Linked DNA regions of Homo sapiens: region 2 is linked to region 1. Evidence: fine-mapped expression QTL. Tissue or cell type: whole blood. Region 1 holds a variant in brackets; the other region holds the start of a gene. All regions are shown on one strand. Distances are between the middles of the regions.

What was found. PIP is the estimated chance that this variant, and not a neighbour inherited with it, causes the effect.
Region 2: HTRA1 starts here. The variant in region 1 is fine-mapped to the expression of HTRA1 in whole blood (INTERVAL, PIP 0.96).

The regions. Positions count from the first base shown.
Region 1 is chr10:122,562,445-122,565,129 of GRCh38, forward strand. All of the region lies in intron 1 of DMBT1 (deleted in malignant brain tumors 1), which reads left to right. Among named protein-coding and RNA genes, the nearest start is that of DMBT1, 3.0 kb to the left of the region's middle. The variant T/C (reference allele first, on the strand shown) is at 1,543.
Region 2 is chr10:122,460,501-122,463,185 of GRCh38, forward strand. It overlaps HTRA1 (HtrA serine peptidase 1), which reads left to right and starts at 1,053. Exons shown (of 9, transcript NM_002775.5): 1 at 1,053-1,624. The coding sequence starts at 1,153. HTRA1-AS1 (HTRA1 and ARMS2 antisense RNA 1) reads right to left here and starts at 905. Exons shown (of 3, transcript XR_946382.3): 1 at 449-905.

The DNA of each region.
Region 1 (2,685 bases):
GGGGGCCACCAGGCCCAGGACCTCAGGGGAGTGGAGACTGGGCATCCTCATCCTGCCTCCATCAGAAGCATCTGAAACTGGGAGGCTGCGTCCTCAGCCCCAGCTCTTGTCAGTACCGAGTTCACCCTCCAGATTGTCTCTGAACCATGACATGGAATTCACATCAGCCACTGTAGACAGGGAGTGAATTGCCTCGTCTTTATCTACAAAGAAACAACAGGCAGCAGTGCTCTTGGATTGAGGACATTTGTAGTTTGCCCATGATGTTATGTGCATGCATATGGACAGACATGCACACATGTGCATGCATGCCTGTGTTTGCCATTCAGAGGTGGGAATTCATGCTCTCTGAAGTGGACCTGTATTCTCTTATTTAAATCTTCTAACATTGCTGAAGTTAGGAACAATTATTTCCACATTTCAGATGGGGAAACTGAGGCTCAGAAAGGTTATTGGCTTGTCCAAAGACAGCACTGGTGAGTGGCTGGGTTAGGGCTTGAATCTGGATCAAATTCACTAGCATTCAGATGACAGCTCTGGCCCACTGGCCCTTGCTGCTCCTTGCAGGGAACTGAGGTGATGAACTGAACTGTGGCATCTAACTCAGTGCTTGGAGCCTGACCACAGAGCTTTGCGCTGGAAGTACCGAGGTGGCAGGCACCTGTCAGCTCTGGTCTTCATGCAAACTCTTGAGAAAAACTCAGTATGCCCAGGTTTGTGCTGGGCAGGAAAGGCTGTGGTACCCACTGCTAGCCCCAGCAATGCCCCTCCTCTGCCACTTGCCTGCTGTGGATCCTCTGTGACCCTCAGTTTACTCATTTATAAATGGAGGTTATGTTCCAACCCATGCAGTATCTGGCACATAGACAGAGCCTCAGAACCATTTAGTGTTACTACTCTAGACATTTTCCTCATGTTTTATCCAAAAGCAGCTTCCTAAAAGTAATGTGAGCTCTTGGATTGGATCCTGCAACAGAAAATGAAAAACTGGTGAAATCCAGATAAAGCCTGGAGTAAACTTAGTAGGAAGGTACCAGTGTTTGTTAGCATGAGAATCACTTGAACTCAGGAGGCAGAGGTTGCCGTGAGCCGAGATTGTGCCACTGCACTCCAGCCTGGGTGACAGAGTGAGACTCTGTCTCAAAAAAAAAAATTAATAAATCATTTTCCAGAAGTGATTCTTCTCCCTTCAGGCAATTTACCACCATTCCCACAATGGCAGCTGGAGTAACCTACAGCTATGTGGTTGATTCTTGGAAGACTACAGATTGGTCTCAGTATGTGCAGAAGGGTCTATTCAAAATGTGTGGACACAGCAGAACCAGGAACAACTTCAATGTGGTGTTCCATGCTGTGGATGAGCCTTGTCAAGGCTCTGGCTGGATGAGTTCGACTGCCATGGGATTAGGCAGGATACCTGGGACCTGGCAGTGGGAATTGCATGGTGTCAGGTAGACTGTGTTTAAATGGCCGAGTTTTGAATGGAAGGCTCTCTTAGGCACATCTATCAGCTCGTTCTTGAGTGTGGGAGCAGGGATGGCA[T/C]GTCAGAAAAGAGGTGGGGATGTTCTGGTACAGAGTTCCCTAGTTTGCTATCTCTGTTGAAAGAATGTTGTGGTTTCTATTGCGAGTTTCTTCTTCATTTTCAGGGATGCATAGCCACATGGTTTCAGTGGCCCCCTTCCTAAGCCATCAATATGAAGCAGGGCAGCTGGGGGAGCCCATCATGGAGCTCATATTCAGGCTGTTGAGGCAGGTGAAGATGTTCTCTGACATACGGCAAGTCCTGTCACTGGCCTGTTGGTTCCATTAGAGAAATTCAAATCTCTGAACTGTGACTGTCACTGCTCTCAGGACCCACATTTACAAAGAATCTGAAGAGCCGGGCATGGTGACACATGCCTGTAGTTCCAGCTACTCTAGGGCTGGAGGCAGGAGGCTCGCTTGAACCCAGGAATTTGAATCTAGCCTGGGCAATAGAGCAAGACTCTATCTCTAAAAATAAAATAATAATCTGATAATTTTGTCAAATGCCTTAATCCTCCTTTTACCAGGAAGTAAAAAGAAAAGGAATAATGAAAGAAAGTATGCTGGAATTGTTAATAAGAATTTAAACATAGCAGACCTTTTTGTATCACATACATTTTGGTATATAAACATCATAAAAGACAAAAGAATACCATCACATGTATTTTTTTTTTTTAGCAAAATAAGATGGTTGAAGTTCTTGTTGCAAAATATCATGTGATGAAATCCCTATCGAAGTGTGTAAGAGTACTGTATTTTATTTTTGTCCTTAGAATTGTATCATTGACCCTGGATTCTTGAATTTGAGAAATTCATCTAGGATATCATCATCTGAAGACTCATAGTCTGAGATTTCTGTTGTACAATCAATTCTACCATTATTAGTATCTGGAGTGCTATATCTTGTCTCTATATTCCTCTTCTGGTTCATCTAATTATTGCAGAAACATCTTCCCTTGTCAGTTTTCTTCTCTTTGCCATCACAAGTAGAAAATGAAAAAATTTGAATTTTTAACTGCATTCAATGAAAGCTAAAAACAGACTATGAAGAAAGTGTCTCCAATCTTAAAAAAAATCTTCTTGAAAGATAATACAATACTTTGGGCATGGAAGAATTATGACTTATTTCACTAGTTCATCTTCCTTCTAGGCAACTTCACC
Region 2 (2,685 bases), 100 kb before region 1:
CCCAGGGTGGGGGTGGAGGTTTGAGGGTTCGGGATGAGGGCTGGACGAAGGGCCTCCTCTCAGGTCCTTGGACACGAGCTGTGCCCATCTGCTCAGTGTGGACCCAGGACTACTGCCCACAGGCCTGGTGCTGCCTGGGCACCCAGACCCACCTCCAGGGTCGCCCTCAGCCCTCCTGATGACTCTCGGACTCGCATCTGTCCCAACGGATGCACCAAAGATTCTCCAGTGGGAAATCAAATTTTTGATAACAAGTGTTTTGAAATAATCACGCACTTGGTGAAAAATCAAAAGAGGGGAAAACCCCTTTCCCATCTGAGACCGCTCCACCCTCGCCAGTTACGAGCTGCCGAGCCGCTTCCTAGGCTCTCTGCGAATACGGACACGCATGCCACCCACAACAACTTTTTAAAAGAATCAGACGTGTGAAGGATTCTATTCGAATTACTTCTGCTCTCTGCTTTTATCACTTCACTGTGGGTCTGGGCGCGGGCTTTCTGCCAGCTCCGCGGACGCTGCCTTCGTCCGGCCGCAGAGGCCCCGCGGTCAGGGTCCCGCGTGCGGGGTACCGGGGGCAGAACCAGCGCGTGACCGGGGTCCGCGGTGCCGCAACGCCCCGGGTCTGCGCAGAGGCCCCTGCAGTCCCTGCCCGGCCCAGTCCGAGCTTCCCGGGCGGGCCCCCAGTCCGGCGATTTGCAGGAACTTTCCCCGGCGCTCCCACGCGAAGCCGCCGCAGGGCCCCCTTGCAAAGTTCCATTAGTTTGAAGGACGCGAATCTCAGCGAGAGAACCTGCGGAAAGCGAATATGTGGGGCGCGCAGACGGGGAAACTGAGTCCCGCGAGAGGGCCGGCCTGTGCGCTGCCCCGCCCGCGCCCCGCCAGCACCGCCGTGCCCGGGCGCGCCCGCCCTGCCCCCTCCGCGGGCGGTCCCGGTCCAGCCGCCCGCCCTCCCTCCCGCCATCCGGCCAGCCCCCATCCCGGGCGCCGTGCCCGTCCCCAAGGCGGCTCGTCACCGCTGCGAGGCCAATGGGCTGGGCCGCGCGGCCGCGCGCACTCGCACCCGCTGCCCCCGAGGCCCTCCTGCACTCTCCCCGGCGCCGCTCTCCGGCCCTCGCCCTGTCCGCCGCCACCGCCGCCGCCGCCAGAGTCGCCATGCAGATCCCGCGCGCCGCTCTTCTCCCGCTGCTGCTGCTGCTGCTGGCGGCGCCCGCCTCGGCGCAGCTGTCCCGGGCCGGCCGCTCGGCGCCTTTGGCCGCCGGGTGCCCAGACCGCTGCGAGCCGGCGCGCTGCCCGCCGCAGCCGGAGCACTGCGAGGGCGGCCGGGCCCGGGACGCGTGCGGCTGCTGCGAGGTGTGCGGCGCGCCCGAGGGCGCCGCGTGCGGCCTGCAGGAGGGCCCGTGCGGCGAGGGGCTGCAGTGCGTGGTGCCCTTCGGGGTGCCAGCCTCGGCCACGGTGCGGCGGCGCGCGCAGGCCGGCCTCTGTGTGTGCGCCAGCAGCGAGCCGGTGTGCGGCAGCGACGCCAACACCTACGCCAACCTGTGCCAGCTGCGCGCCGCCAGCCGCCGCTCCGAGAGGCTGCACCGGCCGCCGGTCATCGTCCTGCAGCGCGGAGCCTGCGGCCAAGGTACTCCGCCGCGCTCCTGGGCAGCTCCCCACTCTCTCCATCCCAGCTCGGACCTGCTTCTGCGGGACTGGTGGGCAGGTTGAGGGGCAGCGAAGCGTTGTGGGGTGGCCAGGGCAACTCTCGGGGACAGGCAGGTGGGCCCCGGGGTGGCGGATTTCCGCGGGCTGCCTCGGAACCGAGCTTCGCGCCCAGCCCGGGGCCGGTTCTGCGCCCAGACGATGCCAGTACGCCCGGCCTGCACTCTGGGGCTCGAGACGCCGGGCGACCGGCCATGGAGTGCCCTGAGGGCAACCACACAGCGCGGGGACCCCAGGACAAATAAGAGGAATGGGGGCATAAAGGAAGGAGAGAAGTTCAGGACTGGGAATTGGCGCCTCGCAGAGCGGCTTCAGGACCACAAGAAGTCATTTCGGTTGCTTTTTCTTCTATTTACGTCCTCCGTCCCCTTTAAAATTCACTGCTTTGATCACGGGACCGCTCAGTGAAAACTGTATGTAACTCTTTTGGAAAGGAACAGTGTTTGCCGGCCCGCCCCGGAGTTTCTCCAAAAAGTCTACCCCGAGCAGGGAACGGTTTGGCACCGCTCTCGTTTCGGCGGCGTTGCTGCCTGTCTTGCTTTCCTCGTTTTGAGCCAGCCCTACAAAAATGAAAGTGGCTCCTTTTGAATAAGCTGAATCGGGCTTTGGATCACGAAATCTGCAGAGGCGGAGAAGGGACCGGGTTAGTGATGAGGAAGAAGTCTACCCCTCTGTTCCTACAGCCGCACACAGGACCTGTTCTGGCAGGGGAGACGGTGGTGATGGGGGAAGGAGTGGAATGGAGCAATGTCTAACTCTCTCGCGGGACCTTCCGGAGAGATGCTCCTCATCTTCAGGCAGAGGCCATGTGGAAAAATAATATCGAGTTCAGCAGCGGCCAGCCCCGCGTTGTAGGAACCAGACAGCGGGGCTTGGCAGTGCGCTTGGGCGCAGCCGTGCCGCTGCTGCCGGACCCCAGTGCTGCCTCCTCAACACGGGCAGTGCCAGGAGAGGGGCATAGGGGAGCACAGTGCAGAGGGACTG